Linked DNA regions of Homo sapiens. The protein of the gene in region 5 interacts with the protein of the main gene of each other region in a pairwise test. Each region holds a gene or a part of one and is shown on either strand. Other genes may lie near its edges.

Region 1 (3,500 bases), on a different chromosome or scaffold from region 5:
TCTCTATCTGTCGCCAGGCTGGAGTGCGGTGGCGTGATCTTGGCTTACTGCACCCTCTGCCTCCTGGGTTCAAGCGATTCTTCTGCCTCAGCTTCCCGAGTAGCTGGGACTACAGGCGCATGCCACCATGCCCAGCTAATTTTTGTATTTTTAGTAGAGACTGGGTTTCACCATGTTGGCCAGGCTGGTCTCGATCTCTTGACCTTGTGATCTGCCCACCTCAGCCTCCCAAAGTGCTGAGATTATTACAGGCATGAGCCACCGCGCCCGGCCAATGCATGGTCTTAAGAATGGATGAGACGATGCTAAGAGCTGTTTTGGAAGGCGTGAGGGTGTTGCCAGCTTCCAGGAAAGGAAGGGGTTCTCATCAACTGGATGTTACATGTGCTGTTTTCCAGGGCCTTAATAAACCACAGTGACTGAACAGAGACTTGCAACCATTTTCAACATTTGACAGAAAGTTTGGTCCTATTTGGTCATCTCAGAATTGAAGCTTGGATCATTGCTACAAGTGAAAACAAATTGATCAGAAATGTCAAGAAAAAAATCTGATATTGTAGCGCTTCCATGGTAGTTCTTAGATTCACAGGATGCCAAACTGGCTTTTGCCAGATTAAGAATTATTTCCTTGCTATTAGATGCCAAGCTGGGAACAGAGGGGAATGTGTTTTTATAATTTAAAATCCCTGGTCACTCAGCATTTTATTTGTCTCTTTCTCCTACTCCTGATATCAGTAACTCTTATTTTATCTTGATTTGTTTGTCTGTATAGTTAGTTTTCTGACAAATAATTGAGGATTTTTTTCAACTACCGCATTGAGGTAAATCCACAGGATTACTATGCCTTAAAAAATTTAAAGAATGCTTGTCACATATGCTCCTATCATTCACCAGTTGTTCTTTATTTTCAAATATGATTGTCTACATCTTTCCCTGGCCACTGAAAAAACTTGATGAAATATATAGCTGAATGTAAATGCCTTGTAAGTATAATGTGTGTTTTCAGCAGTGGCGCAATTACAGCTCACTGCAGCCTGGACCTCCTGGGCTCTAGTGATCCTCCTACCTCAGGTAGCTGGGCCACAGGCATGCACCAACCATACTTACCTAATGTTTGTATTTTTTTTTTTTTTTTTTTTTGAGACGGAGTCTTGCTCTGTTGCCCAGGCTGGAGTACAGTGGTGTGACCTCGGCTCACTGCAAGCTCCACCTCCCAGGTTCACGCCATTCTCCTGCCTCAGCCTCCCGAGTAGCTGGGACTACAGGCGCCCGCCACCACGCCTGGCTAATTTTTTGTATTTTTAGTAGAGACGGGGTTTCACTGTGTTAGCCAGGATGGTCTCGATCTCCTGACCTTGTGATCCACCCACCTTGACCTCCCAAAGTGCTGGGATTACAGGCGTGAGCCACCGTGCCCAGCCTGATGTTTGTATTTTGTAGAGACAGGGTCTCCCTATGTTGCCCAGGCTGGTCTTAAACTCCTGGGCTCAAGCCACCCTACCACCTTAGCCTCCCAGAGTTTTGGGATTATAGGCATGAGCCACTGTGCCTGGCCAACAGGCATTTTTGAGTACTCACAATTTGCTTAACATTGAGGACAGTCTCAAGACTTCCATCATCATCAGACTGCACATACTAGGATTAGCTGTTGCCTGTTGATGGAGGAACAAAATTGCTTTCCTATAGTGAAATTTTGGATGAAGTAGGGTTATTCAGAGAAACATAACCAGTAAGACACACACACACACACACACACACAAATACTCACTCACAGACATGGGATTTATTGTAAGGAATTGGCTCATAGGATTGTGGAGATTGAGAAGTCCTAAGTTCACTTAGTAAGCTATAGACCAAGGAGAGCCAATGGTATATTTCTAGTTCAAGTTCGAGTTTGAAGGCAGGAGAAGACCGATGTCCCAGCTTGAAGAGTCAGGCAGAGAAATGAATTCTCCCTTACTCAGTCTTTTTGTTCTATTCAGGCCTTCAGTGGGTTGGATGAGGCCCACCCACATTGGAAACGGCAATGTACTTTACTCAGTCTAGCAATTTAAATGTTAATCTCATCCAGAAACAACCTTGCACATACTCCCAGCATAATTTTTTTTCCACTGAGGCAATATATTTGTAAATACGTATTACATCGTTATAAAAAGAATCCCAGGATTTTTCTTCCTATGTGTTTTCGTCTTGCTTCTTCGTGGTCTATGATGCCAGCCGAGGTTGTCAGTACAGTGAAACCAAACTGGTGGGATGGGAGCAGGTTATTCTGCCATTTTTCTAGATCTTTGAGTTGCACGTCAAATCTGAGGCTGATTATTCCATACTTGTTTAGCCTGCCTGTGAGGTTCACAACAGTTTTCCCAGCTCTATGATCATCAGTGGTTTCAGATTTGCCAGTGTAACCATGCTTCATCATTATAGTTAGAAACTGGACGATGGGGCTGGGTGCGATGGCTCATGCCTGTAATCTCAGCACTTTGAGAGGCCAAGGTAGGCAGATCACTTGAGCACTTGAGGCCAGGAGTTCAAGATCAGCCTGGCCAACATGGCAAAACCCCATCTCTACTAAAAATACAAAAATTAGCGAGGCATAGTGGCAGGCGCCTGTAATTCCAGCTATTTGGGAGGCTGAGGCACGAGAATCTCTTGAACCTGGGAGGGAGAGGTTGTAGTGAACTGAGAAATGCACCAGTGCACTTTGGCCTGGGTGACGGAGTTGGGACTCCGTCTCAAAAAAAAAAAAAGAAAAGAAAAATAAAAATAAAAAAAAGAAAACGGACAGTTACTTTGGAGCTCGGCCTAATAAGAACCTGGCATTTACCTTGCTTTTCAGCTTTGTTGATGCTCTTGAGAGCATCAGCCAAGACATTCATGTGCACCACTGTGGTGGTATGGAAAGAGCCAGCGTAATTTTAACCAGATATCTGGACGTCCAATAGCCCGGACAAATTGATACATAAAATTAAGCTTCACAGAGTGTTGTGGAATTGTACAGATGGCTGTCACTACCCTAGAGAACATAAATTGTTTAGTATTCACCTAAATTAAAACAGGAGTAAAATCTTATTAAAGAAAGAAGCCCACATTCTGAAACAAAATGGATAATCAGCATTATCACCTTTTAGGGTAGGTGACATGCATATTGTAGAAAGATTGTGAGTTTGAAGTTAGACAAACTGAAGTTTGAATTGCGTTTCTGCTACTTATCAGCTCTAGATTTGGGGCAAGTAACTTGTCTGAGCTGTAATTTTGCGATCTGTAAAATTAAAAATACCTACTTTGTGTTGGTGTTTAGATTAGAGAAAAACGTATTAAAAATGTTTAGGATGCAGTAGCTATTCAATAAATAAAACTAGCCATTTGAAAGTTGACTGTGAGTAATGCTACATAGGCCATTTTGCCAGAAAGAGTCTTTTGTCTTTAAGTGATGTGACATTTTTTCATTGACTGATGGTAGTTACATTTTGTAGAGTCATCTCAGTATATAACTATGTCCT
Region 2 (3,248 bases), on a different chromosome or scaffold from region 5:
GACTATGCAGTCCAACCCTAGCCAATAGGGGAACGACATAGCAGTAGGGACTACCTGCGTCAGAGATAAGAACCCCTTCCTCTCCCTTGATCAGGTATGCTCTCACCATTGCTCCATCTGCGAGACACACCTTTCTATAGAAGCAAAATTGCCTTGATGAGAAAATTCATGTTCGAGTGCTATTTCTTTTGCTGCACCGAAAATTTATTTCTAATACCCACCACCTCTAGGAAATACCTTCTACCATTCACAGTCTCTTCCCACCTCAGGACCGTTAGAACATTCAGTATCTCCACCATAAACTCATTTTATACTTCAACATTCAACATTTAACAAACATGTACAATGTATATGTCATGTGAAACGTTTTCTCATTTAAATCTTTTGTATCCATGTTTTATAATTTCTTCCCAACTAGTTCTTCCCACTGAATTTATTTCTTTCTCTCCCGCATCCTTGTCAAATCTTTTCTATTCTTCAAACTCAAAGACTTTTTGTTTAATCCATTAAGCTGTATATTAGAATACAGATTTTCCAGGCATATACTATACTGACCAAGTTACCATCTCTAGGAGCAGGCCCCTAGTCTGCATCTCCAGAGGTAGGGCCCAAGAACCTGTTTCTACCAAAGATCCCATATGATGATTAGGCAGCAAGCCCAGTGTCATATTCAGACTTTCTTGTAAACCATTGCTGTACAACTTCTAGCCCAATGCTTTGCTTGTGATAAGATTCTTAATAAAATGTGTGTTATTGCATCAGTCAGTAGTCAACTTAGTGAAATGTTTAGTAAAAGAACCTCAGGCCGGGCACGGTGGCTCACACCTGTAATCCCAGCAATTTGGGAGGCTGAGATGGGCAGTGGGCAGATCACAAGGTCAGGAGTTTGAGACCAGCTTGGCCAACATGGTGAAACCACATCTCTACTAAAAATACAAAAAATTAGCCAGGTGTGGCGGTGTGCATCTGAAATCCTAGCTACTCAGGAGGCTGAGGAAGGAGAATCACTTGAACCTGGGAGGCGGAGGTTGCAGTGAGCCGAGATCGCGCCATTGCACTCCAGCCTGGGTGATAGAGTAAGACTCCCTCTCAAAAAACAAAAAAAAGAACCTCATACTTGCATGAATACAGTGGCCTCTATCTTTTCATATTGCCACCCACCCTAGAAATGAAGAACATATTCATCTCCACAGTGTTTAGCAGGTCATTCTGCTCAGAAGAATTGACTCCTCTTCAGTGACTCCCCAGTGCCTAAAAGATAAACTCCAAATTCATGAACTTCACAGTTGATGTTTTCTACAATAACATCTCCAAGCTTTGCCTCTATAATTTTCTTATACAAACCTACTAAACGTTTTGCTTTCCCTCTTCTGTATTCCTACTCTTACCCAATTGTTCAGACTGTTTCTCTGTTCGTAATTTCCTATTTCTTTCCCTCCCACATCCTAGTCAAATCTTTTCTATTCTTCAGAATTTCATGTTTGCATTAAGCTTCCCTTGACCATTGCAACCATCTGTATTTTTCTCATCTCCTATTTTATGAAGCACTTCTATCATTTTTCTTTTTTATCCTTATTTTCTCTGTGACTTTTAAAATTTAATAACATGTACATTGTTAATATTTAGCATTACATTTAAGTTTATTGTTTCTAATTTATCTTATTTTTAAATTTAAAAATTAAGCTATCTTGAAGTAGAAATCATTAACAGTTGTATTCTAGAAACCAAGTATGTCAGTGCTTTTGCATATAGTAAATGCCCAGTAAATTTTTGTGTAATGGAGAATGACGATTTTTATTATGTGGTCTTTCATCTTCTTAGACAGTAATAGTAACTTTTGATCCCTCAGGAGGACTCTTGAAACTAAAGAAGACCCTTTCCAAAGCAGTTCTGATAATATATTCTATCCACAGATGGCTACAGAACCAAAGAAAGCTGCAGCCCAGAACTCTCCAGAGGATGAAGGACTTCTGATAGTGAAGATAGAAGAGGAAGAATTTATCCATGGGCAGGACACTTGCTTACAGAGAAGTGAACTCCTTAAGCAGGAGCTCTGCAGGCAGCTTTTTAGGCAGTTCTGCTACCAGGATTCTCCTGGACCTCGCGAGGCACTGAGCCGCCTCCGGGAGCTCTGCTGTCAGTGGCTGAAGCCAGAGATCCATACCAAGGAACAGATTCTGGAACTGCTGGTGCTAGAGCAGTTCCTGACCATCCTGCCAGGAGATTTGCAGGCCTGGGTACATGAACATTACCCAGAGAGTGGAGAGGAGGCAGTGACCATACTAGAAGATTTGGAGAGAGGCACTGATGAAGCAGTACTCCAGGTGCACAGGGGATGGGAGATCTAAGACCTCCATAATGGATAAAGTTCCACGGTGGGAGGAGAGGCCCGAGATTGCATATCTAGCTTGCAGGAGCTGTTGGTTCAGTGTGCATTTATGTCTCCTTTCCTGTCTGTTTGATTCCACACTACATTTTACAATTAAATCAGACTCGATTCTTCCTTCCCCAGTTTTGCATTTCTATGGGAGTTTCTCTTTGTTGTTAGAAGACGTTTAACACAGGGATTCTTTTATAAGCCCAAATGTACTTTATTTTTCTCAGGTTCAAGCCCATGAACATGGACAAGAAATATTCCAGAAAAAAGTGTCACCTCCTGGACCAGCACTTAATGTCAAGTTACAGCCAGTGGAGACCAAGGCCCATTTTGATTCATCAGAACCCCAGCTCCTATGGGACTGTGGTGAGGGGCAGAATGCCATATAGTGCACATCACTAAAGAAACAGGGGAATGAATCTCCCTCCACAAACTAGTCTTGGTAACTGTAGATGGTCCTTTCCTTTATTACCCAATGAAAAGAGAGAACTTGTGGCCAGGTGCGGTGGCTCACTCCTGTAATCCCAGCACTTTGGGAGGCCAAGGCAGGTGGATCACGAGGTCAGGAGATCAAGACCATCCTGGCTAACATGGTGAAACCCCATCTCTACTAAAAATACAAAAAATTAGCCGTAGCACCTGTAGTCCCAGCTACTCGGAAGGCTGAGGCAGGAGAATGGCGTGAACCTGGGAGGCGGAGCTTGCAGTGAGCTGAGACTGCGCCACTGCACTCCAGCCTGGGCGACAGAGCAAGACTCCATCTCATAAAGGAAAAAAAAAAGAGAGAGAGAACTTGTTTTCCTGTGAGTCTTTGGCCAATGGTAGGGGAAAAGATAATTTTGTTCCTTATCCAGAATATTTCCAAAACACA
Region 3 (4,221 bases), on a different chromosome or scaffold from region 5:
GAGAATCGTTTGAACCTGGGAGGCGGAGGTTGCAGTGAGCCAAGATTGTGCCACTGCATTCCAGCCTGGGCAACAGAGCAAGAATTCGTCTCCAAAAAAAAACAAAACAAAACAAAACAAAACCACAAGGCGGGGGAGCTGGAGCATACATGTTTGAAGTAGAATCTTTGACAAGCTGTTCTGCATCCACTCCCATTTCTGTGCTTCCATATTTGTTTTCTTTCATTTTGTTTTCTAGAAAAAAAAATTTTTTTGGTAGAATTCTCTAGGAAAGCTACACTCCTGTGTCCTAGGGCCCAACAACAAGCAAGACAGGCATAACAGCTGGGAAACCAATCAGCTTAAACTGAGACAGACAATATCAAACAGGCATGTCAGGCCCCACGAGAACATCCACCCTAAATCCAGAAGGCATTATGACCACATCGCTTCAGCTGCCTGGATTTCAGGTATAAATTAGTTCTTCTACAAAGAGGGCACTTGGTCTGTAAACGGGTCCAAAGGTAAGAGTCCCACCGCTAAAGACCTATCTCTCTTCTACACTAACATGGGGGGGCAGTGGGGAAGAAAGGGGCGAGAAGAGGTATGGAGGTTTTGGGAGGGAGTGGGAGAATTGGAGGCTAGAGAGATCGTTTCTGTCCCACCATCTGTGTGACCCCAGTGCCCAGCACAATGCAGCCCACGGAAAGGCACTGGTCCTTTCATTGACCATTTACTGAGCATCTACTACATGCCAAAAAGCGAGATGGGTGCTGTGAAGGCAGAAACGGATTTGGAGATAATCTCCGCCAGGCATACTGAGGTCAAGGTTTTCGTTCGTTTGTTTAGAGAAGAGACGGAGAAGGTCAAGGTGTTTTTGTTTGTTTTGTTGTTGTTGTTGTTGTTGTTTAAGAGTCTTGCTCTGTGCTCAGGCTGGAGTGCAGCGGCGTGATCTCGGCTCACTGCAACCTCTGCCTCACGGGTTCAGGCAATTCTCCTGTCTCAGCTTCCCAAGTAGCTGGGATTACAGGCGCGCGCAACCACGCTCAGCTAATTTTTGTATGTTTTGTAGAGACAGGGTTTCACCATGTTGGCCAGGATGGTCTCGAACTCCTAGCCTCAAGCGATCATCCCCTCTCGGCCTCCCAAAGTGCAGGGATTACAGACGTGGGCTACCGCGCCTGGCCTATGCCAAGGTTTCAAGAAGGTTTAGAACTCAGTATCTGCTCCCCTATTTTCAACAGCGTAGTCAGTCCCTAAAATTGACCCGCTCCAGAGTGTACTGCGCAGGCGCCCGCTACCTCCGCGCTCTCTCCCGACGCCCAGCTCAGACGGTAAGTCCCGCATGCGCACTCCGCTTTCTCTCTGACGCACCCCCGGAAGCACTGTCAGTTTCGGGGGGCGGGACCGGGAAGCGTTTCCGGGGGCTGAAGGCACAGGCTGAATCTGTTGCGGCAGCTGAGGCTACAACAGGCCTGCGCCGGCGGCAGAGAGGATATCTTGGGCGGGGGATGTGAGCGCTGAGCCCTTGGCAGGTACTGCGTGGCCAGGACCACGGGCGGCAAGGGTAGGGGAGGAGAAGTCGGTGGGGGAGTTAAGGGCTCCTCAGCAGGCCCCGACGCTCGCGCCGCTGGCCCCGCCAGGCCCATTCCGTGGACCGGCATACCAAAGCCCCGCGCGGGAGGTTGGGGTCCCGGCGCTCCAGCTCCGAATCCCGCAGTCTTCTGCCCACACGGCGCGCAGACCGCGATACCGAGGCCTTTGGGGCAGCTTCTCGCCCAAGGTCACCCTCGCGGCGGCGGAGCTCCGCCGGCCACAGCGCTTAGAGATCCCGCCCCCGTCCGTCCGCTGGCCTTTCGGGGCGTAGGGTGGGCGCGGCTTGACGACCTCGGGTTCGAGCCACCAATGCCTGAGGCCTGACGAGCCGAGCTGGGAGAAAGACTGCGCCTGGACTTAGCTGATCTTCTGTTTAAGTAAAACATTCAGCATCCCCTGTTGCTGTCTCTGTCACCTGTTGTAACCTGCCCTTTTTGTCTTTCAGCTAGGTCGCTGTCAACCTGATATTTCTCTCCACTTTGTCTTTGTCGGGGTATCTGGATCCTGTTTTATATCTGTCTCCACCTTGCTTCTGTGTCTGTTCACCCTGTCTCTGCCACTCAGCCCTTACTCTAATTCAGGGCCTGTCAGTCTGGCTTTTTGGCCATCTGTCTGTTTCTCTCTTTCTGCCAACTTTGTTTTTGCCTCTTGTCTCTCTTTCCTGAGTTTGGGTGGGGCAGGGCTGCCCAGACCTCTGAGCCATGGAAGGTGACTCATGACCCCGTGAAGTTCCCTGCACTGGTGACACTCTCAGTGACTCGACCGCAGTTTGGCCTCAACTCTGACAGGTGTCGCCCAACATAAGTGTCAGAGTGCAGGAGAGCCTGTCAGGGAGACAGGAGGCCCATTTTAGGGCCAGAGCAGCTTGATGAGTCCTCTCCTTTTCTCGCCTGTGGTTTCTCAGGCCTGCACAGCTTCCCAAATGCCTTCGCTCTATCCACTCACCACAGGATGGTCTCCAGGGATCTCTGGAGCCTGCTCTTTGAGTTACAGCTGTTTAACAGGCCTGTCTACAGGCTAAGAAAGGATCAGACTGAGGTCTTTGGGGCTACTGGAACAGTAGCAGGGTTTCTGGGATAACTGCATGCTTAGTTCAGAGATTGTGTCAGCATTTTCAGTTAAATTATAAGAAACCTAATAATTGGGAATTTATTATTTGCTTTATAAAAGCACCACGGGAGAAATAAACCACACACAAAAGGACAAATGTTGTTTGAGAGCACTTAAATGAAGTACCTAGAATAAACCAATTAAGAGACGGAAAGTAGAATAGTTTACCAGGGGCTGGGGAGAGGAGTTATTGCTTAATGTTACAGAACAGAGTTTTGGGGGATGATGAATAAGGTCTGGAAATGGGTTGTGATGATTGCACAACATTGTGAATGTACTTCACTGAATTGGACTCTTAAAATTACTTAAAATTGTTAAGTCTTAAAGTTTTATGTATATTTTATACAATACAAAAAACAAAAACAGTATTCATTGGAGACTCCTGAAACCAATAAGCTCCTTTTACATGTAATTTTTCAAAATTCATTCTGTAGTTGTTAGGAACACAGTTGAACCTGTGTTTATTGATTCCTACTCTCTTTACAGCAGTGGGTACAGCTGAGGTTCTTAGAAAAGTTTAGTTAAATGAATTTGGTTAAAATCTTTCTCAGGCTTTCTACTTACTTTCTGCCCTGGCTCTCCTCCCTCTGCCTTTCTTGGAATCAGTGCAAGAATGTGCTCATAAGTAGGATACTTGATAATTATGCTTTTCACAGGAAGAAAACTCATAAGGTTGAAAAATAGCCCTTTTATTATAATGCAAAATTATGTGTTATTTCTTGAGTTTCGTTATGGGGGATGCCTTTGTGGTTTTTTTGTTTTTTAAAATCTCTTATTTAAGCTGTCTATTTGCCTTTAAGGTAGTTTATCAAGCTTTCTAATAAGATATCACAACTGAATTACTACTTTATTTAATTGAATCCTAGATGCTGTTATTTCATGTACCACCAAGGAAGGGAGAAACCCTGCTAATTGAACTATGGCTTAATACGCTCTTATCGTTTAGACTTTTTATTATTGAAAACACTTTTAGACTTAGACACTAAAACATGGTATCAATGCCTATTCTAATGCATATATACAAAGGAAAAATAAGAACACATTGGTTAAAGTGTTCGTTAAACTTAACATTCCAAGTTCTACTCTTCTGTGCACTTTTCAATTCAGAGTGTGTCCATATTTTTTCTAGAGTGTCATCCTTTGTGTCATCAAGAACATTGATGAGGACCTCAGCAGTTCTCTATCATTGTCTCAGGCAGTGACAGCTATTAAAACTGCCACCTGGTGATCACATTCTGATTTCAGGAATTTTAAAATGTGAAAAAATGCATGTCTGAAAATTAATTGAAGAGTATCATTTTCATGAACTTTTTTTTTCTTGTTTTTGTTTTTGTTTTGTTTTGTTTTTTTGAGATGGAGTCTCGCCCTGTCGCCCAGGCTAGAGTGCAGTGGTGCAATCCCGGCTCACTGCAACCTCCGCCTCCTGGGTTCAAGCGATTCTCCTGCTTCAACCTCCCGAGTAGCTGGGATTACAGGCGCCTGCCACCACACACAGCTAATTTTTGTATTTTTAGTAGAGACAGAGTTTCACCATGT
Region 4 (4,241 bases), on a different chromosome or scaffold from region 5:
CCTGCAGGTGGTAGTTATTGCCATGTTTTTGCAAGTAATACCGAACTGAGCACAAAGAACACAGAAAACGTCAAATCAACCTAGCAGGGGAAGGACCAGGGGAGAGAGGAAAATGTGTCCATGCTGGGCTCTGCACTGTTTGAATCACAGTGCTCAGGAAACAGGGCCTCCTGCAGAGCATAAGCTTTAAAATAATAGAAATCAACTGCCTAGCTTGAGCCTTTCCCTAGCTAGCACATGGCATTCTGACTGCACTATCCTCCCCTTAGAGGCTCAGTTCCAGTGTCCCCAGAATCTCTCGGCCTTTTGGGGGGAAAAAAAGTCAAGAAAGAGTTATGAAGGGCAGAACATGCATAGTGGGAAGTCGGGAGAAATCTGAGGGTAGGTAGGAAGATGATCTGGAAAGGGATGAGGAGAAACAAGCACCACTAACCCACCGTTCTGTGCAGGAGTCTGAAGTTTTTGCATAGCATCTTGCACCATGGCACAGAGCGGGTATGACATAAAGCAGCTCTGGAAAGAACTGATTTGCTCTTTTGCCAAATGCTTCTTTCTCTGCTTTACAAAATCAGTGCCATAGCACACTTGGAATGTTAATGGACAAATCAGAACACTGCTCAAGTCCACTATCCCAGTTCCATAACTCAAATTAACAGAATAGTTTATAATCAACATAAATCTGAATATTTATTTAGTTTAAAATATGTTGTTGACAATGTAATATGAACACAGGCGATAAAAAAGATCTATTGACAAAAAGAAAAAGGAATAAATGTTTCTAGTATATTCTGCTTGGAAAACTGCCTTTTAGTACATCTAAGATTTTCACCTGCAAGCAGTAATCTGAACCAGTGTTAGGCTTCGTTTGATGAAATATCTTTTTCTGTTTGAATTGCTTACTACACCTTTGTAAACGAAAGTAACATGTATTCACTGGGAAACACTAAAAAATTCAAAAAAGAAAATAAAGTGTAATTCCACCACTCAGGGTAAGCCCTATTAACACCTTGGTACATACCCTTTAAGTGTGGGTGGTTTTAATAACACGACATCATTGTCACCAAGACACTTCATCCACTGTTTCATTTCTGTGATCACAGTAACATGCAGGGCACTCTAGTCTCTACAATTTTTAAAACACTGGATTTCCATTTGCAATCTGTGGCAGGCTAAACCCTTAATTAGTAACAGCAGGTGCTGAAGTGCTTAAAGCAAATCACTCCTACATTTTAGTGAGTTGTTATTTATGTCACTCTTATCACCAGGAGCAGAGCAGCCCACAATCAGCAGCAGCTGCAGGGCTGAGGCTCTCATGGGGCAATTGCGGGCCTTCAGTTTCCTCAGGAGTCAAGGGATTTAAACAGCTCTATCTGGAGAAACTGAGCAAGCGGCTTTTCTCACAAAGGCACACAAAGGGGTCAGTTGGGGCTTCACACTCTCTTAAGGGGAGGAAACCACAATTATTTATGTTCTACTAGATAATCAGATATTTCATTCAGAATTCATTTTGTGCAGCTTTGCCTAATCCTGCACCATAAAATACTATTTTTCCTTAGAGTTTAAATAGGTTCCTCTATCTTGAAAAATTAAGAAAACCTGTTAAACGGGTCCACTTCAAAGTGATCCTAATTCCATTTCAGAAAGCTTGCTCTTAAGAAGAGATGAAATTAAGTTTGCAGAGCATTCTAAGAGGTAATAAGACTACACTCAGCACAAAAGATTGCTCTCTCCTATTTATCAAGATGCGGAAAATACTAAGATGAAAGCCCCCCTCCCCAGCTGGCCTTGCTTTCTGGCGTGGGGAGGTTTCGCCTACGCTTTCCTCCTAGTGGGGTAATCATCACCTTTCACTTTTATCGAAAACAGTTACAAAAGTGATTTTGTGCTTTGCTAAAGGGGCTGAAAAATAAGGTGCTTTCAAGAGAGGCCAGCGGGCTTTTTGATTTCCATGGAGGTGGCAAATGCGTGCAGAGCAGGTCCCGTTCCCACCACGGCTTTGGTTCCACACAAAGTTGCCTGTTTGGGGGGAAGCTCCACGAAGGACACTTTGGGATGCCACGCCAGTGCCCAAACTGAAAATAAGCATGCCCAGCTGTGCAGAGACGGGAATGCAGGAAAATAACGCGCCTAAATAAACTTTCTTATATTAAAAATAAAAATCATCGTTCACATTTTTGTCCAGCCACCAGCCCCAGAGTGCCTACTAAATTGTGTTTCTAGGTAGCTAACTTCACAAGTGGCCTTCTGCTCGAAAAATAAGTTGGGGAAACGTCAAGGGCTAAGATTTTTTTTTTTTTTTTTTAGTTGGAGAATTCACATTTATTGAGTAATTGATGTGATGCAATCTGCAATTTTTGGATTCAAGATAATTTTCACTGAACATTTCATCAGTTAATGGGTTTTCTTTATAACACGATTCAGTTCTCTTTCTTCCTTGGCCTCCTCTCCCGAGATAAATCAGCCCCGTCCCCCAACCTCAGGCCCCAAGGGCCTGGTGGCACCCGGGGGCACCCTCAGAAGCCGGGTCGGCGCTTCCCCAGCTCGGGGCGCCGGGGGAGAGTGGACTCGCGTCCTGGAAGGGGCCCTTCCTGCTATTCGCTCCCCACAGTTCCCCGACAATGAGAGCTCCCCAGGCCGGGCTTTGAGGGCCGAGGGGACCACCGACCTAGGGCCCGCCCGCGAGGTTATAAACGCAGCTGCCTCCCCTTCCACAGCCTCTTACCTGGCCCGAGATCTGGCAGTGCTCCTGGCAGATAATTGAGGAAGCCATGGCCGCTGCGCACGTGCTGGGTCCTGGGGCAGCCTCCCAGCAGGAGGAGCTCCACAGCCGCTGCGTCCCGGGCCCGCCCCCTGCACTAATGGCTCCTGGCCGCAGCTGAGGGCGAGCACGCCCCAGGCGCCCTTAAAGTGGCCCTGTCGCCAGTTCTGGCGCGTGGGGGAGCAGCAGGCCGCTCTGAGGGGTCAACGCGGAACCCGGGTCGGGGGCCTGCCCGCGGGGGCTACTCAAGCTGTCCTGGGGGCCCTTAGGAGACCGCGTCACTAGCTGACTGCGCACTCCAAGTCCCCTTCCCAGGGCAGCTCTCACGACACTAAGCCCCGCGTACTCACTCCCACTGCGCCGCCTGGGGAGGCGGGAGGCAAGGCGTCATCTCAAGATGGTCTAAAAATTTTAAGAAGTCTTTTCTTACGGGCAGTCTTTCCAGTTTAAATGTTAGGAATTAGCAAACACTTGGGTTTGTTTTGCTCTTTTCTAAACAAACATAAACAGAGGATAGGAAAGGCGAGTACTTCTATGGTGATTTCTTTCCAAACCACTAAGAAATTTAAAATGTTAGGCCGGGCGCGGTGGCTCACGCCTGTTAATCCTAGCACTTTGGGAGGCCAAGGCGGGTGGATCACTTGAGCTCAGGAGTTCGAGACCAGCCAAGCCAACATGGTGAAAACCCGTCTCTACTAAAAATACAAAAATTAGCCAGGCATGGTGATGGGAGCCTGTAATCCCAGCTATCTGGGAGGCTGAGGCACAAGAATCGCTTGAACCCGGAAGGCGGAGGTTGCAGTGAGCCAAGATCGCCCACTGCACTCCAGCCTGGGCGACGGGGCGTGATTTCGTCTCAAAAAAAAAAATTAAAAATATTAGAAACACTTCATTTTTGTGCCGTGATTTAACAAATACTGTCCCTATTTTCTCAACGGAAACAATGAGGCGATAAAATTTTCTCGTGACTGCTGCTATGTAAACTCCTCTACTCAACCTTCACTGAACATTTTACTGAGACCTATTGGGCGTCAGACCCGCGGAGGATCCTTCCTCGGATGTGTCTTGACTACTGTGCCATGATTTTTCACTGCTGTAAGTGTGGTGGTTATTGTGGATGACTGCAGACTCTGGATCTCACTAGAGCATATAACACAGAGGAGCTCTCCGGGGAACCATCTCTGCAGGCGGTCCCTGGGCAAGTCTCCTGGTTCCTGAGCAGCTGGTGCTGTGTCCTGGGGGTCCGATTTAGATCCCGGGGGCATGCAAAAATACAGCTGTGATACTCTACAGTTCTGATGGGAAGAAAAGGAGCAGATGAACTTCTGATGGGATCATTCTGCATTACTTTTGGAAGTGTACACGTCTTAATAGAGTGTAATAAATTTCACTTCTATTGCTTTTCCAATTAATCAGGAACTGACAGTATCCACATCAATATCTGTGCGGGAAGTGGTTTGCTCACCAATGTAAGACAGAGGTG
Region 5 (4,152 bases):
ACCTGTAGGTTCTAATTTGTTTCTTGTTTGTTTCCTGACTATCTCCTGGCTCTGCCAGGAAACTTCCTAACTTTCAAATGCTGTACAACCCAAAAAAATGCTAGAAATATCAAAAGAAGTGTCTACAGATCCAGAAAAGACATTTATTGAATTTAATACAATGTCAGAATTGGTCAACTATGCTCAGAAACATAGGACCAAGTGTTCCCTAATTTGAGAGGGTAAATAAGTAACAACAGAAATAAGAGAAAAAACCATAGATATTTCAAATGATCCTGTTTTAATAATTGTCACTGAAAATTAAAGTCCGATCCAGATACCAAATCTGTTTCAACAATAATAGCTAGAGACAAGAGTAAAAATTTCTTTAAAGTTTTAAAACAGGTGGAAGAAGATCCAGAAATATTTATTCCAAGATTTGTAAGCGGGGATAAAACATGGCTACACTGGATAGTCCTGAAGAAAGAGCACAAAACAAAGGCTACCAAAAGGTGGCAGCACTCCAGTCAAAGACAGAGAGGACCAGTCAAGAGAAGAGGTCATGGCAACAGTTTTGGGGAATGCTCAAAAGATATGACTAAAAGACTTTTTGAAGGGCCAAACCAAGATCAAATATGCTTACTAACAGAGTTTTTGAGAAAACTAGCCAAAGCATGAGCAGAAAAACCATTACCAGAGAGTTCTACCTAATCATGAAAAAGTTCTTGCTGTAGCATTTCACTGAACAAAGGGCAGTTTGGCAAGAGTTTCAAAAGGAGATCATGAGGCGTCCACCTTGCAGTCATGATGTGGAACCTGCTGACTTCTATTTATTTCCTCGTATTAAAAATTCTGCAAACGGCACCCAGTTTTCTTCAGTTAATAATGGAAAAAAGATTTCTTGGAAATAGTTAAATTCCCAGAAACATCAGGGCTTGAGGGACAAGGCGGGGTCAAGACAGTGCTCGAACTACTGTCTCGAAATTGATGGAGCAGATGTTAAGAAATAAAATCTACCGGTTTTATTTTTGTCTTTTAATCCCTGTTTTGACAAATTTGGGAAGTCCCCTCACACAACATCAGTCCTAGGCAAAGAGTTGTTATCCTGTATTGGTTCTTCTTTCTATGATTTTGTCTTGCTGTGTTATTTTCTGTTTTACTCCCAAGAAGATTCAGTCTGTGTTTTTTGGAATTCACAGATGTGGAACCTGCGAACATGGAAGGTCAACGGTAAAACTCAGTGGGGTGTGTCGAGGCTGAAATTAACCTAATCAACCTCTGGGGCACAGCAGTCCACCTGGCGTGGACCGTCCCGATTGTCTGCATTGTGCTGACGGCATGAGTACGTATGGGGGCGGGGCAGCCCAAGAGCTAAGAGGGTCAGGGCTAGAGCCGTGAGTGTCAGCCTGGGATGGGCTACATAAGGCCCAGCTCTGGCACCAGAGCTTCATTCTTTGTTGCACAGCAAACTGCAGAGGTCACTCCAGGCTGTGGCTCCACATCCCGAGGAACAAAAGCGGGCCTGCTCAGCTGTCTGCAAGGACGGCCGTTCCAGACCAAGTGGCCTGCTGCTCCGAGGACCCAGCTCGCTCCAGGCTGTGACTCCACATCCCGAGGTCGCTGCCTGGCGACCGGGCAGCGAGGACCGGCCACCCCAGACTTCCTGTCCCGCAGCCCCAAAGACAGAGCTGCGACCGCCGGGACAGCGACGCCTGCACAGCTCTGGTGAGATGGCGGCAGGGTCCACTACGCTGCACGCAGTGGAGAAGCTGCAGGTGCGTCTGGCCACTAAGACGGAGCCGAAAAAGCTAGAGAAATATTTGCAGAAACTCTCCGCCTTGCCCATGACGGCAGACATCCTGGCGGAGACTGGAATCAGAAAGACGGTGAAGCGCCTGCGGAAGCACCAGCACGTGGGCGACTTTGCCAGAGACTTAGCGGCCCGGTGGAAGAAGCTGGTGCTCGTGGACCGAAACACCCGGCCTGGCCCACAGGACCCTGAGGAGAGCGCTTCCCGACAGCGCTTCGGGGAGGCTCTTCAGGACCAGGAAAAGGCCTGGGGCTTCCCAGAAAACGCGACGGCCCCCAGGAGCCCATCTCACAGCCCTGAGCACAGACGGACAGCACGCAGAACACCTCCGGGGCAACAGAGACCTCACCCGAGGTCTCACAGTCGCGAGCCCAGAGCTGAGAGAAAGTGCCCCAGAATAGCCCCAGCTGATTCCGGCCGCTATCGGGCCTCTCCAACGCGCACAGCTCCCCTCCGGATGCCCGAGGGCCCTGAGCCCGCTGCGCCCGGGAAGCAACCCGGAAGAGGCCACACTCACGCGGCTCAGGGCGGGCCTCTGCTGTGTCCAGGCTGCCAGGGCCAACCCCAGGGGAAAGCCGTTGTGAGCCACAGCAAGGGGCACAAATCGTCTCGCCAGGAAAAACGCCCCTTGTGTGCCCAGGGAGATTGGCACTCCCCTACTTTGATCAGGGAGAAATCATGCGGGGCCTGCTTAAGAGAGGAAACCCCAAGGATGCCCTCCTGGGCAAGTGCCAGGGACAGGCAGCCTTCGGACTTCAAGACAGACAAGGAAGGGGGGCAAGCTGGCAGCGGCCAGCGTGTCCCTGCCTTGGAGGAGGCTCCAGACAGTCACCAGAAGAGGCCTCAGCACAGTCACTCGAACAAGAAGAGGCCCAGTCTAGACGGCCGGGACCCAGGAAATGGGACACACGGCCTGTCGCCCGAGGAGAAAGAGCAGCTTTCCAACGACCGAGAGACTCAAGAGGGGAAGCCACCGACTGCTCATTTGGACAGAACGTCCGTGAGCTCCCTCTCTGAGGTGGAGGAGGTAGATATGGCTGAGGAATTCGAGCAGCCCACTCTGTCATGTGAAAAATACCTCACCTACGATCAGTTGCGGAAGCAAAAGAAAAAGACTGGAAAATCTGCCACCACTGCACTTGGAGATAAACAAAGGAAAGCAAACGAATCCAAGGGCACTCGTGAGTCCTGGGATTCGGCTAAGAAATTGCCTCCTGTCCAGGAAAGCCAGTCAGAGAGGCTGCAGGCGGCCGGCGCTGATTCCGCCGGGCCGAAAACGGTGCCCAGCCATGTCTTCTCAGAGCTCTGGGACCTCTCAGAGGCCTGGATGCAGGCCAACTACGATCCGCTTTCGGATTCTGACTCCATGACCTCCCAGGCAAAGCCAGAAGCACTCTCTTCACCAAAGTTCCGGGAGGAAGCTGCTTTCCCTGGACGCAGAGTGAATGCTAAGATGCCGGTGTACTCGGGCTCCAGGCCTGCCTGCCAGCTCCAGGTGCCGACGCTGCGCCAGCAGTGTGCCCAGGTGCTTAGAAACAATCCGGACGCCCTCAGCGACGTGGGAGAGGTCCCCTACTGGGTTCTTGAACCTGTTCTGGAAGGGTGGAGGCCCGATCAGCTGTATCGCAGAAAGAAAGACAATCACGCACTCGTTAGAGAGACAGACGAATTACGGAGGAATCATTGTTTCCAGGACTTCAAGGAAGAAAAGCCACAGGAAAACAAAACTTGGAGGGAGCAGTACCTGCGGCTTCCGGACGCCCCAGAGCAGCGGCTGAGAGTAATGACAACGAATATCCGATCTGCACGTGGAAACAACCCCAACGGCAGAGAGGCAAAGATGATCTGTTTCAAATCTGTGGCCAAGACGCCTTATGATACTTCAAGGAGGCAAGAGAAGTCTGCAGGAGACGCTGACCCCGAAAATGGGGAGATCAAGCCAGCCTCCAAGCCCGCGGGAAGCAGCCACACTCCCTCCAGCCAGAGCAGCAGCGGCGGTGGCAGAGACAGCAGCAGCAGCATCCTTCGCTGGCTCCCTGAGAAGCGGGCCAACCCCTGCCTGAGCAGCAGCAATGAGCACGCGGCGCCCGCGGCCAAAACCCGGAAACAGGCTGCCAAGAAAGTGGCCCCGCTGATGGCCAAGGCAATTCGAGACTACAAGAGAAGATTCTCCCGACGATAAACTCAGGACTTGCCTTGCAGATAAAATCTGGGGGGATTTTTGCATTGGCAAAGTCAATGCGGGTTGGGGAACGAAACTTCCAATGGACACCAGAACCTTTAACTTGGTGCAAAGTTGAGCCTTTGAATTCTGCAGGTGTCATGTGCTGGCCCTGTGATTTTGCCTCCCACACCCAGCCACT
Region 6 (3,500 bases), on a different chromosome or scaffold from region 5:
ATAATGTTTTACTATTTGAATTTTTTTTTTAATGTGGCACAATTCTTTTAAGGTTTCAGGTACGTTCACCAACTTTCTTTCAAAAATCCCGGGACCAGCATTGGTACATTACTCAGTTGGAAGCTGCACAGACTAGTTATATCCAACAAATAAACAACCTTAAAGAGGTAAGAAAATATCTATTTCTGTTTTGGTGTTTCCTATTGTCCTTTTGGCTTGTTATATTTGTAATTAGATTTTATATATTTTATTGCTATTTGTAATTTTGTAATTTGTAATTAGAAAAAAAATCTAGTTATCTTGTTCCCCATCCTTACCAGTTCTGCAGTGTCCAGTTTAGTAGACACTAGCCACATACGGCCATGTAAATTTTTATTTTACTTTATTTATTTATTTTTTTTGAGAAGGAGTCTCGCTCTGTTGCCCAGGCTGGAGTGCAGTGGTGCAATCTCGGCTCACTGCAAGCTCCGCCTCCTGGGTTCACGCCATTCTCCTGCCTCAGCCTCCTGAGTAGCTGGGACTACAGGCGCCTGCCACCACACCGGGCTAATTTTTTTGTATTTTTAGTAGAGACAGGGTTTCACAGTGTTAGCCAGGATGGTCTCGATGTCCTGACCTCGTGATCTGCCCACCTCGGCCTCCCAAAGTGCTGGGATTACAGGCATGAGCCACCACGCCCTGCCACTTTATTTTTATTTTTTTTTATTTTGGAGACAGGTCGGACTCACTCTTGTTGCCAGGCACAATTTCCACTAACTGCAGCTTCAACTTCCCAAGCTCGGGTGATCTTCCCACCTTAGCCTCCCAGGTAGCTGGGACTACGAGCATGTGTCATGGCTAGTTTTTGTTTTTGTGGAGATGGGTTTCTCCATGTTGCCCAAGCTGGTCTTGAACTCCTGGGCTCAAGCAGTCTGCCTGCCTTGGCCTCCCAAAGTGCTGGGATTACAGGTGTGAGCCACTGTGCCTGGTCTGTAAATTTAGCTTAATTAAAATTAAAAATTTAGTTCCTTAGTTGCAGTAGCCACATTTCAAGTGCTTGCATTGGTTACTGCAAATCTAGAGCATTTCCATCATTGCATAAAGTTGTTTTGAACAGTGTGGCTGTAGTTTGAGGTAAGCTGTTTGTGTTTCTGTCAGTGACTTAGTTTCTCTTCCACAAGTTATCTTGGATTTAGAGGATTCTAGGCTATAGCACAATTAAAAGTTGTCCCATCTTGAACTCTTACTATTGTTGAATGAGCACTGGGGAAGATTAATTGATGAATTTTTATTTTACAGTGGTAAACTAAGGAATGTTTCATTTCCCTTAGGAAGTTAGGGTGTGGCAGGAGGTTTGGAGTGCTGAGAGTCGTTAATAGGTCAGGGAGGAAAATGTGAATAAATACATGCTTTCAGAGATTTTCATGTTAAATGTGCTATTTAAAACTGCCTGTATTCACTATACTGTTTGCTAATTGTATGTTTAGCTTAGGCTGGATATGAAAGAAGGAGGATGAGCATAAATGGGGCAGTTTATCTTTGTCATCAATTTTTTTTTATAAATAAAAGGCAGTAGGGATTCAGAGAAATGGTTTAAGAAATGGTGCCAAGTGAGGTGGCTCATTCCTGTAATCCCAGCATGTTGGGAGGCCGAGGCCAGAGGAACATTTGAGCCCAGGGGTTCAAAACCAGCTTGAGCAACATAGCAAGATACCGTCTCTAAAAATAAATAAAAATGAAATTAGCCAAGCATGGTGGCACACACCTCCAGTCCCAGCCACTTGAGAGGCTGAGGCAGTAGGATCGTTTGAGCCCAGTAGTTCAAGGCTTGCAGTGAGCTATGATGGCACCACTGCACTTCAGCCTGGGCAACAGAGTGAGACCATTCTCAAAAAATAAATAAAGCAATGGTTTTAGAAACATCTGGATGCATTTTTTTTTCACTTGAGACATCTTTTACTGTGCCAGTGAGCTGTGGCTAATATTTGTGCTTTTCTTGTTTTAAAAGAGACTTACTATTGAGCTGTCTCGAACTCAGAAGTCAAGAGATTTGTCACCACCAGATAACCATCTTAGCCCCCAAAATGATGATGCTCTGGAGACACGAGCTAAGAAGTCTGCATGCTCTGACATGCTTCTCGAAGGTGGTCCTACTACAGCTTCTGTAAGAGAGGCCAAAGAGGATGAAGAAGATGAGGAGAAGATTCAGAATGAAGATTATCATGTAATAATGAGGCCAGTTTTAGATTTTTGTGTTTGATTAAAAAAAAACAGTAGCATCATGGCTTTTAACATATTATGTGCTAAAACAGTAGGCTAAAAATATTGTCCATTGATTTCCATTAGTAATGTATGTATGCCCTTATGTAAATGTTAATAAGTCAGAAGTTGTTGAATCAAAGCATTTCAAGGTTGTGAAAAAAACAATACATTGTATAAAACAAACCGTGATACACATTTTAAAACCTAAACTACCATACATTGTGGATTTTAAAAATGTGTTCTGGCCGGGTGCGGTGGCTCACACCTGTAATCCCAGCACTTTGGGAGGCCAAGGTGGGTGGATCACATGAGGTCAGGAGTTCGAGACTATCCTGGCCAACATGGCCAAACCCTGTCTCTACGAAAAATACAAAAATTAGCTGGGTGTGGTGGTGCTTGCCTGTAATCCCAGCTACTTGGGAGGCTGAGGTAGGAGAATCACTTGAACCTAGGAGGCGGAGGTTGCAGTGAGCCAAGATTGTGCCACTGCACTCCAGCCTGGGAGACAGAGCAAGACTCTGTCTCAAAGAAAAAGAAAAAAAAAAGGTGTTCTATTTTCATTCACTGAAACTAGTACATGCCTTATCATTACTTACGTAGGTAGACTGATTTAGGATTCGGTAGCTAGCCAGGTTCTATCCCAGCTAAACAACAGTCAGAATCCAGAATAAGAGTTCAAGAAGTAGTTGATATTTTTACATAAGAAGGGATGCATAGACAGTTGGTTTTTTTGTAGTAATTTTTAAGATGAGAGACTTCAGTTTTAAGTTAAAATGAAGGACCCAGTGGGTCGAGAGAATGCACAGATTAAGTGCTTTGATAAACTAGAGATAATAGGGTTTGGAATGGAGCAGTCAGGTGAAGCAGTTAACCTTTGATAAACTGAGTTAAAGGAAGGGTGGAGTTTGCAGGTAAGGCAGCTGAAAAGTTGGGGAAGTTTTTGCTTAATAGTGGGTATTTTTTTTCTGTGCAGATAGGTGACAGTGTTAATTAATGACCTTGATAATGGTAAAATTAGGTAGAATTGAGGAGTGATGGTTTGAAACGTTACTCTGTGAGGAAGCTGATGTGGAATATGTGAAGGATTCCAGTCACACTGAGGGCCCAGCTGAAGGCGGCACGCATAAGTTAGTAAAATGATATCAGTCAGTGTGGTTGTGTGATTTTTCTCTACAGGGCTCAGCAGCTGAGGCACAGGAGCAGAAAATAGATTTTTGAAAACTGTATTATTCTTTGGTGCTTGGTTTATGGGCTGGATG

The links.
Region 1: the proteins of ELOA2 (region 5) and COIL interact in a two-hybrid assay, tested with the Homo sapiens proteins (one large-scale study listed by BioGRID and IntAct).
Region 2: the proteins of ELOA2 (region 5) and ZNF165 interact in a two-hybrid assay, tested with the Homo sapiens proteins (one large-scale study listed by BioGRID and IntAct).
Region 3: the proteins of ELOA2 (region 5) and ZBTB43 interact in a two-hybrid assay, tested with the Homo sapiens proteins (2 studies listed by BioGRID and IntAct).
Region 4: the proteins of ELOA2 (region 5) and SOHLH2 interact in a two-hybrid assay, tested with the Homo sapiens proteins (one large-scale study listed by BioGRID).
Region 6: the proteins of ELOA2 (region 5) and TRIM37 interact in a two-hybrid assay, tested with the Homo sapiens proteins (one large-scale study listed by BioGRID and IntAct).

What each region holds. Positions count from the first base shown.
Region 1 is NC_000017.11:56,951,051-56,954,550, reverse strand, and holds part of COIL (coilin), read left to right. Parts: intron 1-2,107; exon of another isoform or gene 2,108-2,441; intron 2,442-2,787; exon of another isoform or gene 2,788-2,903; intron 2,904-3,500. UniProt on the Homo sapiens protein: Component of nuclear coiled bodies, also known as Cajal bodies or CBs, which are involved in the modification and assembly of nucleoplasmic snRNPs.
Region 2 is NC_000006.12:28,083,568-28,086,815, forward strand, and holds part of ZNF165 (zinc finger protein 165), read left to right. Parts: intron 1-1,913; coding exon 1,914-2,324; intron 2,325-2,604; coding exon 2,605-2,743; exon of another isoform or gene 2,744-2,791; coding exon of another isoform or gene 2,792-2,819; intron 2,820-3,248. UniProt on the Homo sapiens protein: May be involved in transcriptional regulation.
Region 3 is NC_000009.12:126,803,619-126,807,839, forward strand, and holds the start of ZBTB43 (zinc finger and BTB domain-containing protein 43), read left to right. Parts: upstream 1-1,421; 5' UTR 1,422-1,514; exon of another isoform or gene 1,515-1,952; intron 1,953-4,221. UniProt on the Homo sapiens protein: May be involved in transcriptional regulation.
Region 4 is NC_000013.11:36,211,757-36,215,997, forward strand, and holds the start of SOHLH2 (spermatogenesis- and oogenesis-specific basic helix-loop-helix-containing protein 2), read right to left. Parts: upstream 2,801-4,241; 5' UTR 2,771-2,800; coding exon 2,723-2,770; intron 1-2,722. UniProt on the Homo sapiens protein: Transcription regulator of both male and female germline differentiation. Suppresses genes involved in spermatogonial stem cells maintenance, and induces genes important for spermatogonial differentiation.
Region 5 is NC_000018.10:47,032,822-47,036,973, reverse strand, and holds the start of ELOA2 (elongin-A2), read left to right. Parts: upstream 1-1,352; 5' UTR 1,353-1,709; coding exon 1,710-3,971; 3' UTR 3,972-4,152. UniProt on the Homo sapiens protein: SIII, also known as elongin, is a general transcription elongation factor that increases the RNA polymerase II transcription elongation past template-encoded arresting sites.
Region 6 is NC_000017.11:59,047,881-59,051,380, reverse strand, and holds part of TRIM37 (E3 ubiquitin-protein ligase TRIM37), read left to right. Parts: intron 1-52; coding exon 53-167; intron 168-1,987; coding exon 1,988-2,203; intron 2,204-3,500. UniProt on the Homo sapiens protein: E3 ubiquitin-protein ligase required to prevent centriole reduplication. Probably acts by ubiquitinating positive regulators of centriole reduplication.